Linked DNA regions of Homo sapiens: region 1 is linked to region 2. The links come from fine-mapping of genetic effects on gene expression. A gene starts in region 2. The other region holds a variant in brackets. All regions are shown on one strand. Distances are between the middles of the regions. Region 1 overlaps FBP1 (fructose-bisphosphatase 1). Region 2 holds the start of FBP2 (fructose-bisphosphatase 2).

Evidence for each region.
Region 1: its variant is fine-mapped to the expression of FBP2 in lung (GTEx, PIP 0.94).

What each region holds. Positions count from the first base shown.
Region 1 is chr9:94,616,675-94,622,053 of GRCh38, forward strand. It overlaps FBP1 (fructose-bisphosphatase 1), which reads right to left. Exons shown (of 7, transcript NM_000507.4): 2 at 3,655-3,817; 3 at 1,094-1,186. Among named protein-coding and RNA genes, the nearest start is that of FBP1, 20 kb to the right of the region's middle. The variant C/T (reference allele first, on the strand shown) is at 3,084.
Region 2 is chr9:94,590,833-94,596,211 of GRCh38, forward strand. FBP2 (fructose-bisphosphatase 2) reads right to left here and starts at 2,992. Exons shown (of 7, transcript NM_003837.4): 1 at 2,725-2,992. The coding sequence starts at 2,894. RefSeq lists an enhancer at 459-1,001.

The DNA.
Region 1 (5,379 bases), 26 kb after region 2:
ACCCACCTCGGCCTCCCAAAGTGCTGGGATTACAGGCGTGAGCCACCGCATCCGGCCTAAAATATATACTTTGAAAAAATAAAACAAAACAAGAGCTAAAGCTAAGAGGATGTACCTTGGATTTTATCATGTTTCCTGATGGGTGGATGGGTTTTCATTCTATTTTTCACTTATTCGTATAATTGAGCACCTCTCCCTCTCCCTCTCCTCCCTCTCCTCCTCCTCCTCCCTCTCCTCTCTCTCCTCTCTCTCTCTCTCTTTCTCTCTCTCTCTCTCTCTCAGAAAAAGCAGCTCTGGAGGAGGGGTGACTGCCCGAGTCAGGTGTTAGGAGACCCGAGCAGGGCTGGATTCTCATCCTATGCTGTGTGCTTTCTACGACTTAGAGCAAAGCTCAGTAAACTGTTTCTACAGACAGACAGATAGTAAATTTTTCAGTTTTATGGGCCATACAGTCTCTATCATAACTACAAAACTTTGACAGTGCAGCAGAGAATCAGCCAAAGGCAGTATGTGAAAAAATGAATGTGACCAAATGCCAATTAAAGCTTCATTCGTGAAGAGTAAAACTTAAAATGGATCACGAAACTTTGTTCTTTAGTTTTTTTCAACTATTTAAAAATGTAAAAATGGTTATTCTTTGTTCACAGGCTGTACACATTAGGCCACAGGCTGGACTCAGCCCGGGGCTCATAGCTTATAGACCATTGACTAGGGGACTTAAAGGACAGTTTTGACATAGTCTCTATTGTTGTCTTACACTCTCAACTCTGAGTTCACATCGTATCATCACTATACTTACCCTCTACTGCCTCTTTTTTAAATCTCATTTTCTATCATAAAAAGTAAGACATAGTAAAAAGAGTGAAATATCCTTCTCTTCCCACCCATATTTTACCCTATATTCTCTTTCAACAATCTAGTGGGTCTTCGTCATGCAATTAGTGCTGAAAAGCTCAGAACTTGAGATACAAATCTACTTCAGTCTCACAGTTTCATGATCTCCACTCCGGCTGCTCTGCCACAGTGAAATAGGACTGGATGCTCAATCTTAACTTCTGTCCCCAAACCAAGTGCTTAAGATATCACGTTTTACCTTTCTATAGATGCCAAAAATGGTTCCAACGGACACAAGGCAATCGATGTTGGAAGATCCATCAAGGGGATCAAAACAGACCACATATTTACCCTGAGCACAGAAAAAAGAAATACAACCTTAAAATGTTATAGCAAGATACACTAAAGGAGTATACATTAGGGGCTAAGAATGGGAATTTAGAAGAAAGTTCAAAAAATGTGGGTCTTATTTATTTGTACTGTCATGGAAGGCATGAGATGGCATACAGAATGCACAGATACACACACATACACACAAGACCATTAAACAGAGAAAATACCACTTAAGAGGTGCAGATGAAGGTAATGGAATACAGATAAGTCATGATTTCCTATATTGTTGATATAATCAAATCATAATTTTGCATTGAGTTTCCTGGCAGCCAAAGGAAAAAGAAGGTTAGTCACTCATTTTCCTTTATTTGTAAGGAAAAAAATAATTCCTTAGGTGAAGCAGAGACTTTGCTAGGGTTGAGATCTATAAGAAACTTCTCATGGAGGTCTTACAGATGCCCCTTGAGGTTGGGGTGCATAGAGTTTTCAAAAATATCCTGGCTGGGCACGGTGGCTCATGCCTAATCCTAGCACTTTGGGAGGCTAAGACAGGAGGATTGCTTGAGCCCAGGAGTTTGAGACCAGCCTGGGCAGCATAGAGAGACTCCTTCTGTAAAAAAAAAAAAAAAAAAAAAAAAAAAAAAAAAAATTCAATTAGCTGGGCATGATGCTGCACATCTGTAGTCCCAGCTACTCAGGAGGCTGAGACAGGAGGTATCACTTGAGCCAGGAGTTCGAGGCTGCAGTGAGCCATGACTGTGCACTCCAGTCTGGGTGACAGAATGAGGCCCTGTCTCTAAAAACAAAACTAAACAAAACAAATTTCTAGCGTAATTCCCAAAGTAGATAACTTTCAGTGGTAGTGGGAATACCGCAGATTCCTGTTTTGAGTGGGATTTTCAGTGGTGTGCAGGAGCTGGCTGGTATCGGCTCTCAGGAGCTAACGGTGCACATCTCTTCCCAACTCTGCCTTCAGTGATATCACATTGGTAGCTTAAAATCAACGATGGGAGAGTATTCACACCATTGACAGAGGCAAGTGGACATATCAGAGACTTGTTTGTTTGCTTTGAGACCCAGTTTACCAGCACATCACTGGGAGTTTTCCATCTCCAAATTAGCCACTTTACAATGTCGTTTTTAAATGTCTGTAGCAGATTAACATGATTCCCTGCCCTCTTGCTCTTCACAGACCACCCTCACTAATGCAGGAGGAACTGGAAACTGGAACACAGGAAGCTGCCTATCATGAAGGCCCATGATAGACAAGAGAAGTCCGGCGTGAGTGATGGAGAATATTAAACAACAAATCTAAGCCATACGCCTAAAGCTGCCAAAGACCTTGAAAGGCCCAGCTGAGAAAAACATGAACTTCAAGTCTGGCATGTACGGCTATTTTAGGAATGATGAAAAACAACTTCATCAGATGTGGCTCCTGCCCTCTTAATAGGGTGAGGACAGGCAGCCTCTTCATCTTCTCATTGTTTTTTCCTAATTCTACTCCTTCATGTTCCCAGTTCCTCTCAAACTGGGAAAGATAGTAAGCCCATATAACTGCACTTCTAATCTCAGAAGTTTTTTTTTCTAATTACAATTGTTGTTTTATAAAAGCTGGGAATACTCTTTCATTTAACAATCTTTTTCAACAGTCATTTGTTGTTGAGGCCCTCCAATGTGCCAGGCATTGCACTAGACACTGGGACACAGAGACAAATAAGATTCATTTTCTGCTCTCAAAAAGCAGAGATAACGCCAGGTGTGGTGGCTCACACCTGTAATCCCAGCACTTTGGGAGGCCAAGGTGGGCGGGTCACTTGAGGTCAGGAGTTCAAGGCCAGCCTGGCCAACATGGTGAAACCTCATCTCCACTAAAAATACAAAAATTAGCCAGGTGTGGTGGCGGGAACCTGTAATCC[C/T]AGCTACTCAGGAGGCTGAGGCAGGAGAATCGCTTGAACCCAGGAGGCGGAGGTTGCAGTGAGCCAAGATCACACCACTGTACACCAGACTGGGCAACAAGAGCAAAACACTGTCTCAAAAAAAAAAAAAAAAAAAAAAAAAAAAGAAGCAGAGACAGACCAATAGGGACTCCAATGCGTGCATCAGGGATGGAAGTTTCAAGCAGTCTAGGTCAACAGGAGGGTCAGTGTGAAGGTCAGGAATTTGGTGGATAGGGATGTAGTACAAGAGGTGACCAACAGAAGCCAGGGTTTGAAGAGCCTTAAACATGGCAATAAAAAGTTAGAAATGGAGATGAGTTTGTGGGAGTCCACTGGGGAGAAGGCGGCGTGAGCCACAACACTCATCTGCACAGTGGCTCAGGGAGGATTCGAGAGATGGCAGCAGTGAGGTGGAAGCTATGAAAAGACCACAGCAGGGATCTAGAGGGACTCCCAGAAACCCAGCTCAGCTGAACAAGTGGAGTCAATTATGAAGCTGGGAAGAAGACCGGCTACATTAAAACCCTCAATGGTGGAAGTACAGACCCACCCTTTTCTCCGGTTCCACTATGATGGCGTGTTTATCTTCTTCTGACACGAGAACACACGTGGCAAAGGATGACTTTAACATGTTCATAACCAGGTCGTTGGAGAGGACGTCCAGCTTCTTAACTTGATCACCTGTCACGTTGGTAGAACCAGCAATGCCATAGCTACAGGGAACAAAAGCCACAAAAAATAAGCCATGACCACCAGAACATGTAGATGAGTCCATAAACCCACCAAAAGTGAGTGTTCGGTAAGATTTAGAAGAAAGAGTTCATGTCCTTTGCAGGGACATGGATGAAGCTGGAATCCATCATTCTCAGCAAACTAATACAGGAACAGAAAACCAAACACCACATGTTCTCACTCATAAATGGGAGTTGAACAATGAGAACACATAGACACAGGGAGGGGAACATCACACACTGGGGCCTCTCAGGGAGCTGGGGACTAGGGGAGGGAGAGCATTAGGAGAAATACCTAATGTAGATGACAGATTGATGGGTGCAGCAAACCACCATGGCATGTTTATACCTATGTAACAAACCTACGCATTCTGCATGTGTATCCCAGAACTTAAAGTATAATAATAATTTTTTTAAAAAAGGGCCGGGCGTGGTGGCTCACGCCTGTAATCCCAGCACTTTGGGAGGCTGAGGCGGGTGGATCATGAGGTCAGGGGATCGAGACCATCCTGGCTAACATGGTGAAACCCCGTCTCTATTAAAAAATACAAAAAAGTAGCCGGGTGTGGTGGTGGGTGCCTGTAGTCCCAGCTACTTGGGAGGCTGAGGCAGGAGAATGGCGTGAACCCAGGAGGCGGAGCTTGCAGTGAGCCGAGATCGTGCCACTGCATGCCAGCCTGGGCGACAGAGCGAGACTCCGTCTCAAAAAAAAAAAAAAAAAAAAAAAATACAAAAAATTAGCCGGGTGTGGTGGCGGGCGCCTGTAGTCCCAGCTATTCAGGATGCTGAGGCAGGAGAATGGCGTGAACCCGGGAGGTGGAGCTTGCAGTGAGCCGAGATCGCACCACTGCACTCCAGCCTGGGCGACAGAGCAAGATTCCGTCTAAAAATATATATATTTTTAGAAGAAAGGAAGGAGGACATCAGCTTGGGAGAACAAGGCAGGAAGGTCTGGACAGACCCTAGAGAGGAGGAGATACTATCATCTGCCTCTTCACCTCGAACCTGTCATGGTGCCCTGCACACTTTTGTGGTTAAATCAGTGTTTCTTAACTTTGTTTTCATTATGATTCCCCTAGGGAGCTTTTTAGAACATTTTTTCCTCAACCATACTCCCCCATGAAATATTTTTAATACTACAGATATAGTAGATATCTGTTTATTGCAGTATGTGTCTCAGTGCTTTTTACATAAAAAGTTTGCGGGTGTTTTTGGTTTTGCCCAGAAAGAACCAGTGTTGGCCCCCAAACACACGGGTTAAACGAATCAATAGAGAGACCCAGCAAGCAAGGAAGCCTGGGTCGGGGGTAGCCTGAGTTGCGAGCCAAGCCAAGGGGTTTATGGCTTTATAACTAAAAAGACCCTAAAAGAAACAAAGCATCAACCGGCCCCTCTGCCTCATTTCATAGAGGAGAAAACTCAGACCCAAGACTCCTGTGGACTTCTCCACACAGGCAGAGGGTAGAAGTGAGACGCTGCCTATGACTCCCAGGCAGAGGGTGGAGGCGAGACCCTGCCTATGACTCCCAGGCCAGGGCTCTCTT
Region 2 (5,379 bases):
ATTGGTGCGTTTACAATCCCTGAGCTACATACAAAGGTTCTCCACGTCCCCATCAGATTAGTTAGATACAGAGTTTCCACACACAGGTTCTCCAAGGCCCCACCAGAGCAGCTAGATACAGAGTGTCGATTGGTGCACTCACAAACCTTGAGCTAAACACAGGGTGCTGATTGGTGTATTTACAATCCCTGAGCTAGATATAAAGACTCTCCACGTCCCCACCAGACTCAGGAGCCCAGCTGGCTTCACCTAGTGGATCCCGCACCGGGGCTGCAGGTGGAGCTGCCTGCCAGTCCTGCGCCGTGCGCGCGCATTCCTCAGCCCTTGGGTGGTCGATGGGACTGAGCGCTGTGGAGCGGGGGGTGGCGCTCGTCGGGGAGGCTCGGGCCGCACAGGAGCCCATGGAGTGGATGGGAGGCTCAGGCATGGCGGGCTGCAGGTCCCGAGCCCTGCCCCGCGGGAAGGCACCTAAGGCCCAGCGAGAAATCGAGCGCAGCGCCAGTGGGCCAGCACTGCTGGGGGACTCAGTACACCCTCCGCAGCCACTGGCCCGGGTGCTAAGTCCCCCATTGCCGGGGGCCAGCAGGGCTGGCTGGCTGCTCGGAGTGCGGGCCCGCCAAGCCCACGCCCACCCGGAACTCCAGCTGGCCCGCAAGCGCCGCACGCAGCCCCAGTTCCCGCTCGCACCTCTCCCTCCACACCTCCCTGAAAGCTGAGGGAGTGGGCTCCAGCCTTGGCCAGCCCAGAAAGTGGCTCCCACAGTGCAGTGGGGGGCTGAAAGGCTCCTCAAATGCCGCCAGTGGTCATTGACGGCTCAGGCACAGGCAAATCTGGTCTGGGCTTGGAACCGCGGTAGTGACAGGCACTGTGCGTGTCTTACGGGGCCGGCACAGTTGAAATCGTCATCACATGCGCTCGCTAACTCTGCAACAACCCTAAGAGTTAGGGATGCTACTATACTCTCCATTTCACAAAGGGAATCTAAGGTCCTAGCAAGAGTAAATCACGCCCATTATCACACGGTAGGAAATGCCAAATTAATAAGCACCTCAATTATCCAGTTCCTAGGGCCACTTTGTCTCCTTGCTCAACCGCCATAAAGTCAGAGTTTTGCAGCAGATAAGCAAGACCCCTACCATGGCAGCCACTGCCTAGCCAAGAGCCCTGCACAGAGGGGGAGCCCAATTTATGTGGATGAATCACCCTGAGATGGACTCAGGCAACCGCATTGAGGATAGCAGGGTCCGCACAGGGAGAGGCAAAGTCCCTGTCTACCGTCACTCAGCAGGGCTGTCACCCACAGGAGCAGAACAGGGCACCGCCTGCCCTCACATTCTGGAAGGCGATTAAATGCAGAGCGTGGCTGTTATTGCCAAATGAGGTAAAAACAGAGCTGAAGCATCCACCCACAGGAAAAAAGCAAGGATAATGCACCGTTAACCTGGGTCCTGCTACTGGGTCACCACCCCTAAATAAATACAGTCTGTGGTGATCAAATGATAATTACATCTTGTAATCTAATGCTATCACTTTTTGTGTTAAAAGCACTTAATTGCTCAGAGTAAATATTTTAAATGATTGGACTTTGTTAGCTCCTCATTTTGAGTCTCTTTCATCCCCAAAATATGTGTTCCTTCAGCTCCTGAGAGGACCTCCCCTGGAATTACTACAAGGGAAGCCCAAAGAAAGCTGGGGTTTTGTTTGTTTGTTTGTATGTTTTGAGATGGAATCTCGTCCTGTCACCCAGGCTGGAGTGCAGTGGTACGATCTCGACTCACCGCAACCTCCATCTCCCAGGTTCAAGCGATTCTCCTGCCTCAGCCTCCCGAGTAGCCGGGACTACAGGCGCCCGCCACCACACCCAACTAATTTTTGTATTTTTAGTAGAGACAGGGTTTCAACATGTTGGCCAGGATGGTCTTGATCTCTTGACCTCATGATCCACCCACCTTGGCCTCCCAAAGTGCCAGGATTACAGACAGGAGCCACCGTGCCTGGCCACCGGATTCTTTTTATTACAGACTTAAACTGGACACTGGGCTGTGACCATCAGCAGTGTAATGTGAACCTGGCCTCATCTATGCTCGGATAAAGCACCAAAGAGAACCCTGTGGAAGAAACCTCTGCGCTCCCCTCCCAGGACTAGCACCTCCCGGCTTCCTGCACACCAAGTGGAGGTGAAGATAAAGAAAGAGTCACAGAGAAGAAATAAAACACGTAGCCAGCAAAACACTCCTTTAGATGATGAGAGAGCAGATGCAGGAAGGGGCTCTACCAAGCTTCCTATGTCGTACATAATTTCCAGCTCCTAACATATTTGCAAAGCTTATTACAATAAAACACTCATGTCTGCAAGAGGCATAAAGAGATATTTCACGTCACCCCTCTACTTCTTTGTTCCAGTGAGACTCTCTCTGTGCAAGTACAAGTCATGATAACACAATACATATTTTAATGCAACAAGCCACTGCACTTGGTATCATTATAATAACTGGAAAAATTATATGTGTATTTCTTCATAGCATGTTTTCGTTCCTTTCTCAAAACAAGTCAAAGGCCCCTTTATCAAAGCACACATGATAGGAACTTGAAATGCAGCTTCCATCTAGGGCACACAGGGCCAATAAGCTTTGGACCCAGTTTCTTGCCAAAGCACCTGCAGCTCCCACACCCCTGCCTGGGCCTGGGGTGCTCTGTGCCCCATGCCTGCTCCCCAGGACTCACAGGTGGGCCAGACCGGCCTTGCGCACAGCCGAGGAGATGGCTTTGATGGCCGTCAGCATTGAGTTCAGCAGCTGGGTGAGCTCCCCAGTCCCTTTGGCCTGACGCCCCTTTTCCATAACGTAGCGGGTCAGGGTGAGCATGTCGGTTTCGAAGGGGCTTCTGTCCGTCATTTTGGCTGGAATGCTTCAAATCCTTTTCTCCCGGCAGGAAACCTTGCTTACTTCTGAGGGCTGCAGCTCCGCAGTGTGGAAGCCGATAAGAAATCTGTGCTGGCCCTGCCAGGATCTCTAAGGAAAAGGGCCCAAAACACATGACTCAAACAACTGCTGGGGCCCTCAAGGAACTCCCTCTGGCCTCGGGGACTGTGGCAGCTGCCAGGGAGCCGCAGCAGTCTGTAAATAGGACGGGCTGCCCAGAAACATGGAGCTGCTTTCTCCTGCTGAGCACCCCCTTTCAAGATACCAAGAAGCCACCATTTAGGCACAGGTGGGAGGTGAGAAATCCAGTTGATTAAAAAATGATGCATAAAACCCTCTTATTCCAGGCTCCAAAGGATTCTTCACATATAGTGACTGCAGGGCCTGGCTCTCCCGAGGGCGGAGGTGGCAGATTCGCAGGTTCCTTATCTGGGACGTAGGTCACATAGTAACATAATGGCAACCCCAGAATTCCTTTAGCCAGGGTTTGGAATAAGTTAGGAAAGAATGCTTTTTATTTCCAGTAGGCATGTATGACCAGTGGATATCCACAGTAGAGATCCAGATCCGGAAGAAAACTATTATATTCCTAGCACAGTTCCTGGCACCAGTGTTATTTTGTCAATATCTCTGGATGTCCACTTTTGTAACAAAAATTGCTTGTTAAAAAGGAAACACTAAAGAAGTGGATAAAGACAAACCTCCTCACCACCAGCCCATTCTCCCATCCCACTCTCCAGAAATCACTGCTGCTAGGGCTGGTGGCGGTCTGTGCAGCCAGTAGGCACTGGTGGGGTGCATATGGTGGTGGAAGCACTTTCTCTAGGGCCAGCCAGACCTGGCTGTGAGTCCCAAGCTAGCTATCTGTTGGTTGCATGATTTGAGAAAGTTATTAAACCCCTTGGAACCTCAGTTGTCTCACTCTTAAATGAGCATAACCGTGAAGCATCCATCTTATAGAGTGGCTGCAATGAGATGTACCTAGTATAGTAGGTGCTCAGTACTTTGTTACCTATTATTGCCCTTCCAGTTTTTTTTTTTTTTTTTTTTTTTTTTTTTGAGATGGAGTCTCACTCTGTCGCCCAGGCTGGAGTGCAGTGGCGTGATCTCGGCTCACTGCAAGCTCCGCCTTCCAGGTTCACGCTATTCTCCTGCCTCAGCCTCCCGAGTAGCTGGGACTACAGGCGCCTGCCACGACGCTTGGCTAATTTTTTGTATTTTTAGTAGAGACGGGGTTTCACCGTGTTAGCCAGGATGGTCTCGATTTCCTGACCTCGTGATCCGCCCGCCTCGGCCTCCCAAAGTGCTGGGATTACAGGCGTGAGCCATCACGCCCAGCCGCCCTTCCAGTCTTTCAATGTGCTCACAACTATTGTGCAATCATACATAATCTCATTTCACAAAACAGTACAACATGCACATTTCTCTGAAGGTCTTTTCCCCTGACAGTTATGTCGATTAGAATGTGTTCAGCTGCAAGAAATAGAACAACTAGAGCAATTTACACGTGGGGGTTTATTTCCTCATAGACCAGGAGTGCACTAGGAGGTGGTGGCTGGTGTTCATTCAGCTGTTCTTGGTTCCACTGGGACCCCTCTCTGTCTCGTCTCTGTCATCCTTGGTCGGCTGGATTGTGCCCCTTGCTTGGCATCCTGGGGGCACAAAATGTCACTGCAGTTCTGAACATCTGGCCCACGTTGAAGATGCAAAGAGGGGAGCAAGGGCAGCTCCAACCACATCAGTTCCTTTTTATTAAGAAAGAACAGTTTCCCTGGAACCCATCCTCCCACCCCCGTAGACGTCCCTGTGCACAGCGTCTGCCAGATCAGGGTCGTGTGGTGATGCCTGCAGTGGGAGCTGGGCGCTGGCATTGGATCAACCAAACTGGTTGAGGAGGGCAACCAAATGGTTGAGATGGGCATTGGTGCTCACAATTTATGTGGAAACTTTCAGATAAAACTAACATCTACCAGTAGATCTTAATATGCAGGTTTAAGATCCCAAATATATATATATGTTATTTATATATGTTTTTAGTTCCAGAAAGCAAATATTATGGGAAGATGTCCAAGTCAGCACACAGAGGCTTGGATCATTCCAGCTTGCGGACATTCAGATAATTTAGGTAAGTTGGCTCCTCAAATAGTAATGCAACAAACATCCTTATATTGGGGCAAGTGCTTCAGTAAGATACAACCCCAGAAGAGGAACTGCTATGTGACAATGTTCTAATTCTTTTCGCGGGGGTGTGGGGGGGTCTATCTTCACTTACCAAGAAATATGCTACCTCTTAATAGAACAAATACAGGATCCCATACCCTTTTTGTGATTTTCATTCAATCTATTTCAACTTTCAACACTGAGGTGAATGGATAGATGGAGACAGATGACACCTCTATCTCAGTATGTGGCACACATTAATCCACCCAATTATTTGATCCAGTAGTGCTATTTTTAC